6 separate regions of the Homo sapiens genome follow, and regions 1, 2, 3, 4 and 6 are each reported to be linked to region 5. The links are microRNA targets in miRTarBase. Many come from high-throughput screens and were not tested one by one. Region 5 holds a microRNA gene; each other region holds the end of a gene's coding sequence.
What was found. The annotated mature microRNA hsa-miR-15a-5p reads UAGCAGCACAUAAUGGUUUGUG and lies in region 5 at 1,732-1,753, shown strand. An mRNA with a match to its seed (bases 2 to 7 or 8) in the 3' UTR can be bound and repressed. Matches are read on the target gene's strand: a 7mer-m8 pairs with bases 2 to 8, a 7mer-A1 pairs with bases 2 to 7 and ends in A, and an 8mer does both.

Region 1: miRTarBase lists PDIA6 as a target of hsa-miR-15a-5p. Seed matches in the 3' UTR shown: 7mer-m8 at 991-997.
Region 2: miRTarBase lists NT5DC1 as a target of hsa-miR-15a-5p. The part of its 3' UTR that is shown has no 7-base or 8-base seed match.
Region 3: the mRNA of EZH1 is a reported target of hsa-miR-15a-5p. Seed matches in the 3' UTR shown: 7mer-m8 at 2,853-2,859 and 8mer at 2,086-2,093.
Region 4: the mRNA of PLEKHB2 is a reported target of hsa-miR-15a-5p. Seed matches in the 3' UTR shown: 7mer-m8 at 926-932, 7mer-m8 at 929-935, 7mer-m8 at 932-938 and 7mer-m8 at 2,102-2,108.
Region 6: the mRNA of B4GALT1 is a reported target of hsa-miR-15a-5p. Seed matches in the 3' UTR shown: 8mer at 639-646.

Annotation. Positions count from the first base shown.
Region 1 is chr2:10,781,838-10,784,967 of GRCh38, reverse strand. It overlaps PDIA6 (protein disulfide isomerase family A member 6), which reads left to right. Exons shown (of 13, transcript NM_005742.4): 12 at 1-34; 13 at 642-1,577. The coding sequence ends at 710. ATP6V1C2 (ATPase H+ transporting V1 subunit C2) reads right to left here. Exons shown (of 14, transcript NM_001039362.2): 13 at 2,593-2,725; 14 at 1-1,794. The coding sequence ends at 1,705. Among named protein-coding and RNA genes, the nearest start is that of PDIA6, 29 kb to the left of the region's middle.
Region 2 is chr6:116,243,548-116,246,682 of GRCh38, reverse strand. NT5DC1 (5'-nucleotidase domain containing 1) reads right to left here. Exons shown (of 12, transcript NM_152729.3): 12 at 1-2,774. The coding sequence ends at 2,659. Among named protein-coding and RNA genes, the nearest start is that of TSPYL4, 9.0 kb to the left of the region's middle.
Region 3 is chr17:42,699,608-42,702,694 of GRCh38, forward strand. It overlaps EZH1 (enhancer of zeste 1 polycomb repressive complex 2 subunit), which reads right to left. Exons shown (of 21, transcript NM_001991.5): 21 at 668-2,985. The coding sequence ends at 2,925. CNTNAP1 (contactin associated protein 1) reads left to right here. Exons shown (of 24, transcript NM_003632.3): 24 at 1-386. Among named protein-coding and RNA genes, the nearest start is that of MIR6780A, 7.0 kb to the right of the region's middle. RefSeq lists a cis regulatory region at 1-277 and an enhancer at 1-277.
Region 4 is chr2:131,146,466-131,149,600 of GRCh38, forward strand. PLEKHB2 (pleckstrin homology domain containing B2) reads left to right here. Exons shown (of 8, transcript NM_001100623.2): 8 at 172-3,135. The coding sequence ends at 308. Among named protein-coding and RNA genes, the nearest start is that of PLEKHB2, 43 kb to the left of the region's middle.
Region 5 is chr13:50,047,785-50,050,919 of GRCh38, reverse strand. It overlaps MIR15A (microRNA 15a), which reads left to right and starts at 1,719; the gene lies at 1,719-1,801. DLEU2 (deleted in lymphocytic leukemia 2) reads left to right here. Exons shown (of 14, transcript NR_152566.1): 6 at 1,258-1,336. MIR16-1 (microRNA 16-1) reads left to right here and starts at 1,859; the gene lies at 1,859-1,947.
Region 6 is chr9:33,110,700-33,113,699 of GRCh38, reverse strand. It overlaps B4GALT1 (beta-1,4-galactosyltransferase 1), which reads left to right. Exons shown (of 6, transcript NM_001497.4): 6 at 114-3,000. The coding sequence ends at 246. Among named protein-coding and RNA genes, the nearest start is that of MIR12117, 3.5 kb to the right of the region's middle. RefSeq lists an enhancer at 1,510-2,109.

The sequences.
Region 1 (3,130 bases), not on the chromosome of region 5:
TGAGAGAGAGCCTTGGGACGGCAGGGATGGCGAGGTGAGTGCCCGGGAGGGAAGCTGTGCGGGCAGCAGTCCTGGTTTACTCTCTTGAGCCTGTGCATCTCTGCACCTGGAGTCAAGTCCTTCCCATCAGACCTCAGCCCTGGTGCACCCGTGGGCCTTTTAAGAGGTTCTTCTCTGAAGACCCTTCATCTTCCTTATCACAAGTTTAAGTGCTGCATGGCATTTGATACTCTTGACAGCCAAGATACATTTCAGTAGTAAGGTTGCTTTCCTGATTATTACCTTAAAGTGAACATTTAACCTGGAATTCATTTACTTTATCTTAGAAAAATAGAAAATGATAGCTTTGAAATTAGCACTTATTTCTGTACTGTTGTGTCCCACCCTCCTCAAAAGGACACGTTCAAGTGGCTTCCAGTGTTAAAATGGTGAGTGATGTGATGTTGAAATGTTTCACCTGAGTTCTGAGCTTTTCCATCCGTATAATCATAGGTACGAAGGTCAGGGTAGGAGTCAGACTGAGGAGAACCTGGATTGTAGCAGGAGTAGCTCCAGAGAGTCGCTCTTCCATAAAATGAGATGTTGACCTTCCAGGGTGTCCCCTTCTGCAGATCTAACAGTGGCTTTCTGTCGTCTCCCAGCTTCCCGTGGAGGATGACATTGACCTCAGTGATGTGGAGCTTGATGACTTAGGGAAAGATGAGTTGTGAGAGCCACAACAGAGGCTTCAGACCATTTTCTTTTCTTGGGAGCCAGTGGATTTTTCCAGCAGTGAAGGGACATTCTCTACACTCAGATGACTCTACCAGTGGCCTTTTAACCAAGAAGTAGTACTTGATTGGTCATTTGAAAACACTGCAACAGTGAACTTTTGCATCTCAAGAAAACATTGAAAAATTCTATGAATTGTTGTAGCCGGTGAATTGAGTCGTATTCTGTCACATAATATTTTGAAGAAAACTTGGCTGTCGAAACATTTTTCTCTCTGACTGCTGCTTGAATGTTCTTGGAGGCTGTTTCTTATGTATGGGTTTTTTTTAATGTGATCCCTTCATTTGAATATTAATGGCTTTTTCCATTAAAGAATAAAATATTTTGGACAATGCCGATAAATGTATGAAGTTAGTATCCACATCATAAATTCAGAGTGATGTTTAGCAGTAAATCAATATTTTGAAGTGATACACAGATGTCTTTCCTCCCCACAAACTTTTTTAAACAAAAAACAAGACCTCTTTTCTTTAGATGGTGCCACCTATGCCCACCACAACAGAGATTTTACATGGAAACCGGGCTCAGTGAGAACTGATTTCCTGCCCAATATTTGTCTTTGGGCTGTCTCTAGTGACTAATTATTAAGGAATCTAGCTGGTTATACAGTTCAAGGCTTTCTATGTTGTTAATGAACCTCAAAATAGCCGTTAAGACATGAAATACAGCAGCAGGTTACCAATGCGAACAGGTAGTTCGCATTTATGTAAAACATTCAGAAAATGAAGTTTTGAATTTGTTGGAACATTCAAAGGACTTGAGAGCATTTTATTGTAACTTAAAAAAATAAATACAACTGTCACTAACTTTTGTGAGCAATTTCTCTGAAAAAGATCTTAGTTCTGTAAGACATTTGAACCATTCTCTGGCTAAAGGAAAGAGGTGTCTGTAATAATCTGCACGAACATGAGACAGAGGTGCCAGCTGGCCTTTCTAGTCAAGAAGACTAAGGTCAATATGGAAGTAGACATAAGGAAAATAGTCTTGGTTATTGAGTTGCAGTCCCGGGATCTCCACAGATGCCTACAAAAGAAGACATGGTAATGCTCTAAGTGCATAAACTAGTTTCCTGTCTTATCCTTTTAGTTTTGAGGAAGCTCGCCAGGCACTGAGCGTACGTTCTGCTCTGCGTAGCTGTGGTCCACCCCTCCAACCCTCTCCTTGCTGTGCTTTAATGTGTATGACATGTAGATTTTCATAACAGGCTGACAGATAGTTTTGCTTTGTTTTGTTTTTGAGACAGTTTCTGTCACCCAGGCTGGACTCAGCTCACTGCCTGCCTCAGACTCCCAAGTAGCTGGGATTACAGGCATGCACCACCACTCCTGGCAAATTTTTTTTTTTTTTTTTTTTTTTTTTTTTTTTTTGAGACAGAGTCTTGTTCTGTCGCCAGGCTGGAGTGTAGTGGCGTGATCTCAGCTCACTGCAACCTCCGCCTCCCAGGTTCAAGCGATTCTCCTGCCTCAACCTCCCAAGTAGCTGAGACTACAGGCACACACCACCATACCCAGCTAATTTTTGTATTTTTAGTAGAGACAGGGTTTCACCATGTTGGCCAGGTTGGTCTCCATCTCTTGACTTCGTGATCCACCCGCCTTGGCCTCCTGAAGTGCTGGGATTACAGGCGTGAGCCACTATGCCCAGCCCAATTTTTTTTTTAGTAGAGACAGGGTCTTACCATGTTGGCTAGGCTGGTCTCAAACCCTTGACCTCAAGTGATCCACCTACCTCCCAAAGTGTTGGGATTACAGGCAGATACCAGTTTTTTGAAAGTAAGATGCTGAGCTTACTGTAGAAATACTGCTGTTTCTGGATACCTACATCCAGTATACTTGTAGCGGCTACTTCATCCAGATGTCGGAAGACAGAGTTTAGAACCTCTCTTAAACGCTTGGTGGATGACTTCTTATGCGGCTGCAGGAGCACTGCCTGGAAGTTCACTGGTAGTCCATACCTTTTCAGATAGACAAAATGTGTCAGTTCACTGCTCCAAATGCAAACACGGATAGAAGGAACCTGACCAGAAACAGTACATTCCGAGGGTGAAAAGCTTCAACCAACACAGCTTCATAAAGTCAAACTCGAGCAAAATGCCTAGGGTCAGCGGTGATCTCTGGATAGAAAAAGCTCTAGAATTTGCTAACCCCCTTCTGATAGCTAGTTTTCAACTATAGAGCAAAAGAGGTCATCCCTCTGGCCATGAATGGCCATTCCACGGTGCATGCTCAAGTTGAATGCAGGTAGTTGGACTGAACATTCGGACTCCAAGGCGTTTGTCTAAAACCCAGCTCGGCCGTTTTTCTCCACTAAAGGAGAGGCAAAAATCTGGTTTATCAAGATTGTTACTATTTTCGCTGAG
Region 2 (3,135 bases), not on the chromosome of region 5:
TCAAGAGGCTGAAAAGATGTAAGGGACTGTTACTCCAACACTGAAGATTTTAAAAAGCTATCCATGTATTTCCAACAGTCAGTGAAGGTTATTATATCTAGAGAGGCAGTTTGATTTTCCATTTTATGCTGATTTGTTATATAAAATAATTATATAAATTTATTTTCATTCAAACCAGTTCACTAAAAGTGTGTGTGTGTGTGTGTGTGTGTGTATTTAAAGTTATTTTTGGATATGAATATTGGTGGGGAAATAATACTTGATTTCAGTTTAGAGTTTAACAAACTCAGAAGTTGATTTTAGATTGTAATTCATGGTTCAGATAAAGTTTTTACTACCTCAGTATTCCAAATACCAGATTCTGACAAAACATTTGGTCACTGAGTCATTCAGATCTTTCCTCTGCTGATGCGATAAACAGTGGCCAGCAAAGAAAACCTCCGCTCGCTTACATCTATTTTTAGGTGTCCTTTAGATTATGAATGTTTGCCTGTATGCGAATATTACATGTCTTCTGTCCATTTATACAATTTTTTTGCTTCATATAACTTCTTTAATATTTTCTTTTTAATTTTTATGGATTTGGATTATTTTTAATCTTCATATCCATTGGCACTCTTTACAAAGAATGAAAATACAAATTTAAAAAGCCTAATTATAGTCTTTCTAATTACAGAAAAAAAACATTCATTAGAAGAAATACTGACTGCTAGAAAGGAAGGAAATTTAGAAATAAACTAAACTTTTCCTTTCATAAGATGGAAAAAACTGAAGCCAAATTTGGTGGTAACTTGTTCAGGGTCTTTAGGTGGAATGATAAAGGGAATACTAGAACTTCTGACAACTGAATTCTGCCTCCTGAACCCCCGCCACTACTCAAGTGGCCCAAAAAGTGCAGTTATTTCTTATTTTGGACTTCTCATTTTTCATATTAACAGTAGTTCATAAGCATTTAAAGATGTATTATTTGCCATTTACAGAGTAAACATGGATAAGGAAAGATAGCTTTATTTTTAAAAGAAATAAATTCTCTATTTAAAGCATACATGAGATAGTATCTTTCATTTAGTCCTAAGCTTGATTATTTATGCTCATTGTAATATTCCAGTGACATTCTGGACATAAATTTCAAGTATATCACCATATACTTATTGTTAAATATCAAACAAAGCTACTGACTGTGAGGGAAAAATTTCAGTGATTTTTTTTGTTTGTTTTTTTGTTACTTACCCTGAGATACTCATCCCACAGTATATCTGAGATTTAGCTGAACATTTACAAATTTTAACAAATTTTTTTTCTTTCCATTGCATGCATCGATATGCCAAATTCTGCACTTCAATCCAGGTAAAATAATGATAGTGTTTGTAAACCAGATAGTGAAAACCAGTGTGTTTTCTAATACTGCCCATGATAGACAGAGTGAAATCACAGCATAAACAGTAGCCAGGAACCTATACTGCAAACATTTGGCTTCAAGTATCTTGCAACAAATAGCTACTAATATGACCATACACGGCACATAGAACACCACAGTCCTGGATTGTAGCATGCCTGTAAAACCCATTAAAGCATTTTTTTCTCAAACTTTTTGTTCATTATTACCCTCCTTCCCAATTACAGAAATTAAATTCAAATTACATTAAATAGTTTTAACTACAAATTTCTTCCCAATGAGATAAATTAATACTAAGGAATAAGATTTTGTTGGATAGGATGATATTGGAAGTCCACAAGCCATATCTAATATTTTTTCACCCCAAGAACCAATTTTTGTCCCCAATTGAGAATGTAATGCTTAAAGTTGATTAAATAAATTAAATAGCCTTTAACATTATTAGAAAAAAACCTAGTGGGTAACAATGGAGGTTGAGATAGTTGACTTCTAGATCATCTTTTTTCCATACTTGCTGTATGAACAGAGAATAAGTCATGTCTTTTTATTTTCTTGTTTTGGAGAACACAGGAATAGCATAAAACCTCATAGCCTGCAAAAATCACTTAATCTCACTGGACTCAATGTTCTTGACTATTAATTGAAAGAACTGGTATAGATCAGTTGGTTTTCAATTCTGGTTGTACTTTCCTAGGGCATATAAAAGATAACAAAAGATAACAACGCTCAGCCATATTTACCCAGACCAATTAAGCCAAGTCTCTGGAGGATATGTTCTAGCCAGTGGGTCTCAAACTGTACTGTAAATCAGAATCACCTGACGGGCTTGTTAAACCAGATTGGTAGGCCTTACTCTCAGAGCTTCTGATTCAGCAGGTTTTGCGTGGGGCCTGCAAATATGCATTATCAAGTTCTCAGGTAATGCTATGCTATTAGTCTATGGATCACACTTTGAGAACCACTGGACTAGGCATATGTGTAAGAGTGACTGTGCGTGTGAGTGTGTGTCCCCAGGTGAATTCTAATCACAAAACTACTGTATAGAAAATATCAATAAGGTTCTAAGTTTTAGGATACTGAGATTTTAATATAATAAGAGTTGTTAAACATCAAGATGATTTATAGAAAGGAGACCTATGGACAAATATCAACTTATTGGTCAATAAAACTTGTTCCTTAAAGTCTTTTACAGTATTTTTTGAAAATTAACTTTTTTTTAACTGCATATATGGGTCTTCACTTCATTTTTCAGTAAAGACAACTTATTTGGATATCAGTGTCTCATCACTTGATAAGACCAGTGGAGGATTTGGATAGTAGCCAGCTGTTTTTGAATTGCTTGAAGAGAATCTTGTAAATTTGTAGTCCAGAGGTAATTCTGGGGAGGAAAAAAAAATTTAATTATTGCACAGGTCTCTGAATGCCTTTCATAAACAAATCAAAACTTGATATTCACTAATAAAACTTATTTTTTAGACGTAAAATTTTAATATTTCTTTTGCTCCTTCAGTAGGTCTGTGTGTAGCTATTATTATAAGGTTAAAAATGTGTATAAACCAACCACCATTGTAATACATATGGCTAATAAAGACAAACTTTTACAACAGCTATAAAAAAGGCTTCTAGGCATTTAAATGTGAATGAGATAACCATGTCTAACAGAATATCCACAAGTATAGAAACATTACTTGAATATAAAAAGGTTTTAAGAGGCAAAAGGGATGTACCAGGTTATTTTT
Region 3 (3,087 bases), not on the chromosome of region 5:
AATGGCCTTTGTGCCTGCCCAAAGGCTTCGCCCCCTCCAGTGCATGAGGAACCCTCTTTCCTCCGCTCAGAGATGCTGCTTCATTTACCCAGGAGGTCATATTCTTTATATATATTTTTTGTTGCAAAGTGTCTCTCTAGAGAAACTCTATATATTATTCGAATTTTTAAATTATTTGTTTATATATAAAAGAAAAGCTCAATTGGCTGTGCTGTCCTGTGCTGTGCTGTGCCCACAGTCTGTAGTTTGCCTTTCCTGTGTTGGAAGTGTCGTGAGTCCTGCTGGTCACCCACCAGCCTGGTCCGGCCTCCACTCTGAAGCAGGGTTGAGCCTGCTGTGCTCTCAGACGCGGAGCCGTTCCAATAAAGCAGAGTGGCAGAGCCCCAGTCTGTGTGTGGTAGCTGGCGTCGTGGTTAGGGGATAAGTGGGATGATTTTAAGGGAACTAATCTGAGGGCTCAGGAATTTCTAGAAGGAGCTCTCAGAATCCTTGCATCACCTTCCAGGGACTTGACTGACTGGCTCTTGCCAGAACCCCCATCTCCCCCTTTCCCAGATCTCAGTGGGTAAGTGGGGATCAGAATGCTGATGCTTCGGCCCAACCTGCTCCTGGACCCCATCCCTGGATCCTTCCAGCCCCAAAGCACACAGTACACAACTTGCCAAAATGGATTCTAACACTTTATTAAGAGGTCACAAGCCACAGGACTTTAAAGTGCATGAAATTTATTGGCAATGAAGCCGCATGTATACCAGGCTCCCCTAGTCCCCACCACCTTGCCCCATCCATCATGACGTGGTGGGGAGGGGTTGAGACCCATCTTTAAAAGTGGGGGACAGCAGGGACAAAGGATGGGAAACTGGAGGAACAGGAGTATTCATGAACTGAAGCTGGGACAGGAGACTGACCACAGTGATTCTGCTCACTGAAGGAAGGGTGGGGTCAGTCTAGTCTCTCAAAGGCTGGTGAAAAGTTTTTTTTCACCTATTCCTCACAGCGAGCCCCTGGCATTTCAAATAGACCTAACTCCTCCTCTTCATCTTTCTCTGGTTTTCTCCTCTATGAGTAATTTGGAACCCACAGTCCAGCTTGAGGGTATCCCTGATATGCACAATGAATACAAACCACGGCGGATGCAGATTTCAGGATCATGCTGGGGCCTGGCCCATTTGGGTGGGAGGAGCTTTCTGTCAGGAGTTGCTGGGTGCGGGGTACGTGTGTGCCCTCCAGTGTGGTGAGTGAGAGCATGTGAGTGTGTGTGCATGTCCCATACCAAACCGTAAGAGGCAGCTGGGTCAGGAGGAACCCCACTTCTTCCTTCATGGGACAACAAGTGGAGTGGGAAGAAGCGGGGCTCTGAGTCCCAGAAAGAAGGGAGAAGCCTGCTCCCTACTGTAACACTCCCAGGCCAATCTATACCCGCCCACACCCTTTCTACTCAACATACTGCTCCTTGTTCCCAGCCAGCCCGGCACACCCACCATGGACACAGGGCAGCTCTTGCTGGCCCCATTCACATGAAATTCTTCTGTGTGAAACTCACTCGTCTGCCTCTCCCAGGAGATGAGACAGGACTGGAGGAGAATCTCCCACCCTCTCTTCTTCCCCCTCCCTCAGGAGTGGGATTTAGGCAGGGACCCTAGAGACCTTAGGCCAAACTCTACCCCAATCTATAGACCTTTTAAAAGAAATGGTTAAAGTGCTTTGCTCTGCATGAATGCCAGAGAGGGTGGCACCACAGCCTGGGACAGGTGGTCTACCTGCTTCTTCTCCCACTTCAGATACCCTCTGCCAGTGTGCCCTGCACACGGGGTGCCAGCCTAAACGCGTGCAATTTAGCCCCTCACCAACCTTGGAACATATTCTAACTCACCCTTTCCAAACAGCAGGCACTACAGACAGGAAAGCAGATTACACCAATCTTTCTCCTCTCTAGTCCAAGCCTGTGCCCACCTACCCTGAAGCGATAAGCAACACTGGCCATTGGGCCTTGCCTCTATGGGGAATGGAAGGCCTGAAAACACCCACAAATCCAGCGAGCCAGGATGCTCACACCTGCCAGGCATACCCCTAATGCTTCTTCAATAGCAGCATAATGCTTGCCTGCAGCTGCTAAGCCAGAACTTTGGAGGAGCTGGAGCACTGGTGTCTGTTCCCAGGAATCTGAAAACACTTCTCCATCTATCTCCAGAGTACACAGAGAAGGCTTTCTCAAAGCCTCCTGGGCCCAAGCTTAGCAGTTTAACTACTATCATCTGGCTGGTTCTCCCTCTCTGGCTAAGGAAGGATGGCGTAGCTTTCCTTCCCCCAGCCTTGAATGCCTGTACTTAGAACCCACACTCTTTCAGTTTGAGCCCTGCCACGAGGGAGGAGGTAGTAAGGTGACCTGTCTACCTCTGAGTTCAGTCTGTGCTGCCTGCCAGGCTCGCCTCTAACCCAGACCACTTGTAGGCTCCAGGGACCACACTTCACTTAGCCTGTCCTCTCCAGGTCTTAGGACCACAGAGGTTTGCCTGCATCCCAATAACATAAGGACTCTTGATGTGGAAAGCTACAATTACAGGCTAGCGCTTGTTGGGAACTGCCTAAGTTGATTCCTGAGGCCACAGCCTGGGGAGCCGACACGAAATCACGCATAAGTCATCCACCCCAGCCTGTGCTCGCTTCTTCTGAGGCCAGAGAAACAGTCTCCCATTTCTGTAACTCTCTGTCCTGGGAGACCAAGCCCTAGCTGCCTCTGTCTCCCCTCTCATTGAGACAGTTTTGTGCCCTCTGGACATGGCAGAGGCCTCACTACAGAGGGAGTGGGTTGGGGGGTTTCTCAGTGTGGGAGACACAGTGCAGGAGACTCGAGCAGCAGTGGTGTGAGCACGAAAGCCAAGACAGTGCCGCTACCATAAGTGCTGCCGTGGGGCCTGGGAGGGCTAAAGGACGTCGGTCTCCCTCTCGATCCCCACGTACTTGAGAGCATCAGCTTGGCTGTACCTGTCCCAGAGCAGGGAAGAGGAACCAGGTTACTCTCATGACTTTTGTGATTGAAAAGGCGGAGTCCCCTCCCGTTTCACTTCCCCTCCCACTCCTTAAGGG
Region 4 (3,135 bases), not on the chromosome of region 5:
GTGCGGTTTCAGGGATGTCGGCCACATGATGTGCCTGTTGTGGAGGAGGGCTGGGTCGCCAGTGTGACAGGAGACAGCAGATCCCTTTTGTGAAAGGAGAACTGGTACTTTGCGTGATGTTAAACTTCACAAACCGCTGCTCAGAAATCTGCTATTTTCCTTCTCTTTTAGGACTTTATGGACAGCAGCCTGCTAACCAAGTCATCATTCGAGAGCGCTATCGAGACAACGACAGCGACCTGGCACTGGGCATGCTGGCAGGAGCAGCCACGGGCATGGCCTTAGGGTCTCTATTTTGGGTCTTCTAGGGGCCTCAAGGTCTTGATGTGCATAGCTTCTGATAACCCTGTGTGCAATAATATGATTTGCAGGGCATTTCTGTTTGTGACAAAAGTTTTTAATAATAGTTTTAATCATTCCTTTGAAAGTAGTGATGTCATAATTGTACTAATCCACATAAGTACCACAGAGAAGGGTTTGAACTGTGCTATTTTGTTCAAATGTTGACTCTCCGGGGGCACTGGCTCATTCCAAGACTGTTCTTGTGCAACTCTCAGAATACCTTATTTGAGCATACCTGTTTTGAAAGGCATTTTCTTTTTAGAGTTAGGTGTAGTGCTTAAGGGTTAATTTATTTTCATGTTATGCCAGTAATATAGTGTTGTATGCCTATTGAGTGATTGTGGCAAGAAAAGCTACAGCTTCTTTGCGTTTAACTTTTTCAAACCACAGACCAGAACTGGTTGCATGTTACTTTAGGAGTTGTGGGTTGGTAAGCTCCCAGGTACTTCCCGAGGCTATGGTGTGAGAGCCCCCGTCCTGCCCTCTGGGGCTCCACAGGCCCCTGGCAAGGCCGATGGCTCAGGATGATGGGGCACAGCCCGCCTTTGAACAATCATGCTTCAGAAATCTGCCTGACCCTAGCTGCTGCTGCTGCTCACTTTATTCTTGTATGGCTTTGGTAGGCATACTTGGAGAACATATCCCACATTAGGAATTGATTTAAGCCTGAGAGTTTGAGGGCTTTAATCCTTTAAAACTTGGAGAAGCTGGCTGGGCGCGGTGGCTCACGCCTGTAATCCCAGCACTTTGAGAGACCGAGGCGGGCGGATCACGAGGTCAGGAGATCGAGACCATCCTGGCTAACACGGTGAAACCCCATCTCTACTAAAAATACAAAAAATTAGCTGGGCGTGGTGGCAGGCGCCTGTGGTCCCAGCTACTCGGGAGGCTGAGGCAGGAGAATAGTGTGAACCCAGGAGGCGGAGCTTGCAGTGAGCCAAGATAGTGCCACTGCACTTCAGCCTGGGTGACAGAGTGAGACTCTGTCTCAAAAAAAAAAAAAAAATCCTGGAGAAGCCAGAACAATATACAAACAAGTATGTGGAGGCAGATTTGCTTTATTCCAAGAGGCTGTTTGAGTGTGTGTCTGCCTAAGCCTCCTTATAGCCTATTTTTCTACTTGCTGAGAGAGTAATATTAAAGGAACAGTGAGGGAGTGGAAGGAGAGCCTTAGTTAGAGCGTTCCCATTTCTGGCCTTTGGGGGTTTGCACTGTGCGGGAGATGCTCTCTCATCACTCTGAAGGCCCATCCTGTGCAGAAGTGGGACTCTGTGGCTGTTCACTGAGCACCAGGGCAGACTGTAGCTGAGCAGACTTGGGTTATGGATGGGATATGGGGCCCAGGGACCCTCAGGACACAGGGACCGGCTCAAGGTACCACTCAGCCTGGCCAGGACCCCCAGCTTTGCTTTTGTTCTTGATCTCTTTGTGATAGAGAAGCTTAGAACATTGAATTTGGAACCCCAAAATGTGTGAGTCTTTGGAAAACCCATTCCAGCCTTTCTTCAAATGCTCTTATTTTCAGTATATGAAGTGTGTATTTGAAATATTCATATTTCTGTTATTTCTTGTTTTCAAGCTCTGAATTATTGCAGTTTTCTGTCCTGCATGCTTTCAACAGTGTGCTTTTACAGTGGCAGTTTAGCACAGCGAATGTCCCTGCCCCACACTCCATATGGTCCTGTTTTCCTGAAAATACACTCCAGGTAGCACAGACTTGTTATTTTGCCTGGCTGGTTACACACATGCTGTCTTGCTTTGCTGCTCAGCCACCTCCCTCTGAGGCCAACTTAGGCCAACCTACATAGGACTCCATCTTTAGCGAGACACCAGAGACACCTAGTGATGACCACGGGTCTGCTTTTCTCTCTGATCCTAGGGGACTTGTTGACATGGGAGTGTCTGTTTCCACATGGAAGGATGTCTGTTTATCTCTCATCTCTGAATAGATGTATGACAACTCTAGTGTCCATGGTTTAAAATGTTGCTTTGAGGATTTTCCATCCTGTATAAGAAGAATGGCTTTCTTCAGATTATAATCGTTATTAAAGCTGTATGTACACTTTACTTAAAAACTATTAACAGTTTTTCATGTTGCACTGGTGGTAATTTTGAACTTGGAATTACTGGGTGGGAATTCCAGGAACCACAGAGTATTGATTTTTGCTGCCAAAATGCTCTTGAAGCAGATGTCCCTGTGCTCCCCTGGCTGCTTCTGGCTGAAGGGGGGAGGTGTAGACTGAAGCTTGGGCACTCATGTGTGTCCCCTCCCCAGTCCCCATCCTAGTGGGGCCAGTCTCATTAGGCAGCCATAGATAAGCCTGGAACTTGGCTGTCATTAGTGACTTGATCCTGGTATGAAATGCATACTGGGTATAAGGTTGCTCAGGTATTTTATTTCCTTGGCCACAACTCCCATAGATGCCAATGTTTTGATAGCCTCAGTTTCTCAACGATGTCTTTTGTTTACAGTGCTACACTTAGTGTGAGTCAAGAAGTGCTTGAGTTACAAGAAACTTCTTATTCAGGTTTGAGTAAGCATTTTACTTCCATGTGTACTTTTAAATAATCCATACCTTGAAGAAGTTGGCCAATGATATTATATACATGCTGATCTGATTGTTCTTTTCATTCCTTGAGTCAACTTCAGGGTCTTGGATACTAAAGAGAAGGAGAACTGTGGTTAATGTTTTGGATCATCATTTGTGAACAAGGCCAGACTTTGCCCATTTTAGGCTATCCAGGACTTAAGGTAGCCATCTGGATCATAAGAAGGTCCTGCAGTTGAGACAA
Region 5 (3,135 bases):
TTTAGGACTTTGGGAGGCCAAGGCAGGAGGATTGCTTGAGGCCAGGAGTTCAAGACATCCTAGGCAACATAGCAAGACCTTGTCTCTACAATAAAATAAAAATGTAAAGAGCTGTGCATGGTGGTGTGTGCACTTGTAGTCCCAGCTACTTGGGAGGCTAAGGTGGACTGATCACTTAAGCCCAGGAGGTCAAGGCTGCAGTGAGCTACGATCATGGCACTGTACCCCATCCTGGGCAACAGAGTACCCTGAGATGAGAAGTAAAACAAATCCTGTAGCTCTTGATCTTCCTATTCCCTACCTATTTCCGGTCCATTTACCAGGTAAGGAAGTATACTCCTAAAGTTTCCACTTACTCAGATGTAGAAATGAATTTCTTTTTCTCTAAAAGATACGGAAACTACTCTCTTAAAAAAAGAAAAAATAAAAATTTAAAAAACGTTGTGCAGAAACTTGAGACAATAAGGAGCAGAGTTATATGTGAAATCCAGGTTGCTTAGATAGGAGATTAGCTACATATATTTTTTATTAATGGGAAAAATACTCAGAAAAATTTCATATGGAATGTGACCCTGTGCTTTGTATAAGTAATTAGATATTAGAATGGAAGAGCAAATTTTAGTGCTTTGGTTGTGTACATCACCTTACTATTCTGTAATAGATGTAACTTTAGCATAGTCATTTTAATGATGAGAACATGGGGCAAAAAAGATTGTCCAGGCTTGAATGGTGGCACCACTAGAGTGGTGGCAATTTTCTGATATCTTTTAGAGAAAAGGAATTTCATTTCTACATCTGAGAAAGTGGAAACTAGGAGTTTCTTCCTTACCTGGTAAATGGGCCAGAAACAGGGAATAGGAAGATTAAGAGCTATGGGATTTGTTTTATTTCTCATCTCAGGGTACCAAATTAACTCATCATCCCAAGGATTCATATTTTAGAATTACTTAAGGATTCATATTTTAGAATTACTGTATCAAATGATATCCAACTCTAAGAGAACTTCTAGTATGAAGATCAATGTTGAAAGTAAAATATTTAGATTATTAATAACAAATTATTTAAGGGAGAATTAGTTTGTTTAGAGCTTTTTTTCTTAACTATATTTGGAATTAAAATGTCTTAATTAGATATTTAATAAAATTAACATTTAGAATTAAAGTATTTTTCTTTAAAAGTATATTTGCATTTTGCTAGCTTAAGTTTATTGAAACTGAGCTCTTGTATGTCATTTCATGTTTTTCCCTTGATGTGAAGTCTTACCTATTTGATGAAGATGTCTTTTGAAAGGTGTACTGCAAGGAACAAAATGTTTGTAAATTCTCCTTTTACCAAGGTAAAGATCAAATTTTATAAATTTACTTGTTTGTTTATACAAGGAAAAATAACTTCATATATTGAATATATTCAAAAGTTTAAGCATTTAGTTGTATTGCCCTGTTAAGTTGGCATAGCAAATAAATGCTTTTCTTTTCCTCATTTTATTCTTTGTGTTTCCTAACCTATAGCACTGTGCTGGGCACAGAATGGACTTCAGTTAAGTTTTTGATGTAGAAATGTTTTATTATTCTACTTAAAATCTCCTTAAAAATAATTATGCATATTACATCAATGTTATAATGTTTAAACATAGATTTTTTTACATGCATTCTTTTTTTCCTGAAAGAAAATATTTTTTATATTCTTTAGGCGCGAATGTGTGTTTAAAAAAAATAAAACCTTGGAGTAAAGTAGCAGCACATAATGGTTTGTGGATTTTGAAAAGGTGCAGGCCATATTGTGCTGCCTCAAAAATACAAGGATCTGATCTTCTGAAGAAAATATATTTCTTTTTATTCATAGCTCTTATGATAGCAATGTCAGCAGTGCCTTAGCAGCACGTAAATATTGGCGTTAAGATTCTAAAATTATCTCCAGTATTAACTGTGCTGCTGAAGTAAGGTTGACCATACTCTACAGTTGTGTTTTAATGTATATTAATGTTACTAATGTGTTTTCAGTTTTATTGATAGTCTTTTCAGTATTATTGATAATCTTGTTATTTTTAGTATGATTCTGTAAAAATGAATTAATACTAATTTTTCAGATGTATCATCTCTTAAAATACTGTAATTGCAATTTAATAATTGTATTGAATGCCATCAAGTTTTTTTAAAAAGCTTATGCAGCATTAGAGGAATTTATTTTAATGCACATTTATATTCAACATAGACATTAATTCAGATTTTTACTTGGGATAAAACAAATTCTAGTTTTCCCTTTGTTTTGAAATTACTTTTAAAATATGTCTTTACAGATAAATATAAAATATATTAAGCATTTTGAACAGAGCTTAGAAGACAATATTTAGTACTGTTTCTGAATATTTCTTTATATCTGAAGGGGAAAAGCCATCAAAATATGTGAATTAAATACCTAAAATTCTGGTTGTCAAAACGTCACACTTAACCATAACTTTAAAGGTAGAAAAACCCTTACAAGTGACCAACCCACTCATTGGATAGCTAAGGAAACACAAAACTCAAATAATTTGCTACACATCACAGATTGGGGTCTTAGTCTTATGTCTTCTAACTTTATAATGGTATACTATTTTTTTCATGTTTTTATTAAAATGTTTTCTTAAATCCTTAGCCAAAGATTTTTGTTTGATAAGTCAAAAATAAGGTCTTGTTTACTTTGTTTACTTTTTTGTATTCAAGATTTAACTCAGAGTAAGACCAAATTATCATTGTAGTTTTATTGATATAAAATGTCAACATAATTTAATTTTTTTTTTTACTTTTTTGTATTTTTAAAATTTTTTATTAAAAATAAAAGTAGACAGCCAGGTGCGGTGGCTCACGCACTTTGGGAAGCCGAGGCAGGCGGATCACCAGGTCAGGAGATCAAGACCATCCTGGCTAACACGGTGAAACCCCATCTCTATTAAAAATACAAAAAAAATAGCCAGGCGTGGTGGCGGGCGCCTGTAGTCCCAGCTACTCGGGAGGCTGAGGCAGGAGAATGGCATGAACCTGGGAGGCGGAGCTTCCAGTGAGCTGAGATCGCACCACTGCACTCCAGCCTGGGTGACAGAGGGAGACTCTGTCTCAACAAAAAAAAAAAAAGAAAAGAAAAGTAGAGCTGGGCACA
Region 6 (3,000 bases), not on the chromosome of region 5:
GAGGGAAATTGAGGTGGTCAGGTTACAGTGGAGAGGGAGGAGGAAGTACGTGTGATGATTTCTTCTTAAGATTTTTGTTTTAAGACAATCTCCTTGTGCTCTTTTCCTTGTAGGTTTGACCGAATTGCACACACAAAGGAGACAATGCTCTCTGATGGTTTGAACTCACTCACCTACCAGGTGCTGGATGTACAGAGATACCCATTGTATACCCAAATCACAGTGGACATCGGGACACCGAGCTAGCGTTTTGGTACACGGATAAGAGACCTGAAATTAGCCAGGGACCTCTGCTGTGTGTCTCTGCCAATCTGCTGGGCTGGTCCCTCTCATTTTTACCAGTCTGAGTGACAGGTCCCCTTCGCTCATCATTCAGATGGCTTTCCAGATGACCAGGACGAGTGGGATATTTTGCCCCCAACTTGGCTCGGCATGTGAATTCTTAGCTCTGCAAGGTGTTTATGCCTTTGCGGGTTTCTTGATGTGTTCGCAGTGTCACCCCAGAGTCAGAACTGTACACATCCCAAAATTTGGTGGCCGTGGAACACATTCCCGGTGATAGAATTGCTAAATTGTCGTGAAATAGGTTAGAATTTTTCTTTAAATTATGGTTTTCTTATTCGTGAAAATTCGGAGAGTGCTGCTAAAATTGGATTGGTGTGATCTTTTTGGTAGTTGTAATTTAACAGAAAAACACAAAATTTCAACCATTCTTAATGTTACGTCCTCCCCCCACCCCCTTCTTTCAGTGGTATGCAACCACTGCAATCACTGTGCATATGTCTTTTCTTAGCAAAAGGATTTTAAAACTTGAGCCCTGGACCTTTTGTCCTATGTGTGTGGATTCCAGGGCAACTCTAGCATCAGAGCAAAAGCCTTGGGTTTCTCGCATTCAGTGGCCTATCTCCAGATTGTCTGATTTCTGAATGTAAAGTTGTTGTGTTTTTTTTTAAATAGTAGTTTGTAGTATTTTAAAGAAAGAACAGATCGAGTTCTAATTATGATCTAGCTTGATTTTGTGTTGATCCAAATTTGCATAGCTGTTTAATGTTAAGTCATGACAATTTATTTTTCTTGGCATGCTATGTAAACTTGAATTTCCTATGTATTTTTATTGTGGTGTTTTAAATATGGGGAGGGGTATTGAGCATTTTTTAGGGAGAAAAATAAATATATGCTGTAGTGGCCACAAATAGGCCTATGATTTAGCTGGCAGGCCAGGTTTTCTCAAGAGCAAAATCACCCTCTGGCCCCTTGGCAGGTAAGGCCTCCCGGTCAGCATTATCCTGCCAGACCTCGGGGAGGATACCTGGGAGACAGAAGCCTCTGCACCTACTGTGCAGAACTCTCCACTTCCCCAACCCTCCCCAGGTGGGCAGGGCGGAGGGAGCCTCAGCCTCCTTAGACTGACCCCTCAGGCCCCTAGGCTGGGGGGTTGTAAATAACAGCAGTCAGGTTGTTTACCAGCCCTTTGCACCTCCCCAGGCAGAGGGAGCCTCTGTTCTGGTGGGGGCCACCTCCCTCAGAGGCTCTGCTAGCCACACTCCGTGGCCCACCCTTTGTTACCAGTTCTTCCTCCTTCCTCTTTTCCCCTGCCTTTCTCATTCCTTCCTTCGTCTCCCTTTTTGTTCCTTTGCCTCTTGCCTGTCCCCTAAAACTTGACTGTGGCACTCAGGGTCAAACAGACTATCCATTCCCCAGCATGAATGTGCCTTTTAATTAGTGATCTAGAAAGAAGTTCAGCCGAACCCACACCCCAACTCCCTCCCAAGAACTTCGGTGCCTAAAGCCTCCTGTTCCACCTCAGGTTTTCACAGGTGCTCCCACCCCAGTTGAGGCTCCCACCCACAGGGCTGTCTGTCACAAACCCACCTCTGTTGGGAGCTATTGAGCCACCTGGGATGAGATGACACAAGGCACTCCTACCACTGAGCGCCTTTGCCAGGTCCAGCCTGGGCTCAGGTTCCAAGACTCAGCTGCCTAATCCCAGGGTTGAGCCTTGTGCTCGTGGCGGACCCCAAACCACTGCCCTCCTGGGTACCAGCCCTCAGTGTGGAGGCTGAGCTGGTGCCTGGCCCCAGTCTTATCTGTGCCTTTACTGCTTTGCGCATCTCAGATGCTAACTTGGTTCTTTTTCCAGAAGCCTTTGTATTGGTTAAAAATTATTTTCCATTGCAGAAGCAGCTGGACTATGCAAAAAGTATTTCTCTGTCAGTTCCCCACTCTATACCAAGGATATTATTAAAACTAGAAATGACTGCATTGAGAGGGAGTTGTGGGAAATAAGAAGAATGAAAGCCTCTCTTTCTGTCCGCAGATCCTGACTTTTCCAAAGTGCCTTAAAAGAAATCAGACAAATGCCCTGAGTGGTAACTTCTGTGTTATTTTACTCTTAAAACCAAACTCTACCTTTTCTTGTTGTTTTTTTTTTTTTTTTTTTTTTTTTTTTGGTTACCTTCTCATTCATGTCAAGTATGTGGTTCATTCTTAGAACCAAGGGAAATACTGCTCCCCCCATTTGCTGACGTAGTGCTCTCATGGGCTCACCTGGGCCCAAGGCACAGCCAGGGCACAGTTAGGCCTGGATGTTTGCCTGGTCCGTGAGATGCCGCGGGTCCTGTTTCCTTACTGGGGATTTCAGGGCTGGGGGTTCAGGGAGCATTTCCTTTTCCTGGGAGTTATGACCGCGAAGTTGTCATGTGCCGTGCCCTTTTCTGTTTCTGTGTATCCTATTGCTGGTGACTCTGTGTGAACTGGCCTTTGGGAAAGATCAGAGAGGGCAGAGGTGGCACAGGACAGTAAAGGAGATGCTGTGCTGGCCTTCAGCCTGGACAGGGTCTCTGCTGACTGCCAGGGGCGGGGGCTCTGCATAGCCAGGATGACGGCTTTCATGTCCCAGAGACCTGTTGTGCTGTGTATTTTGATTTCCTGTGTATGCAAATGTGTGTATTTACCATTGTGTAGGGGGCTGTGTCTGATCTTGGTGTTCAAAACAGAACT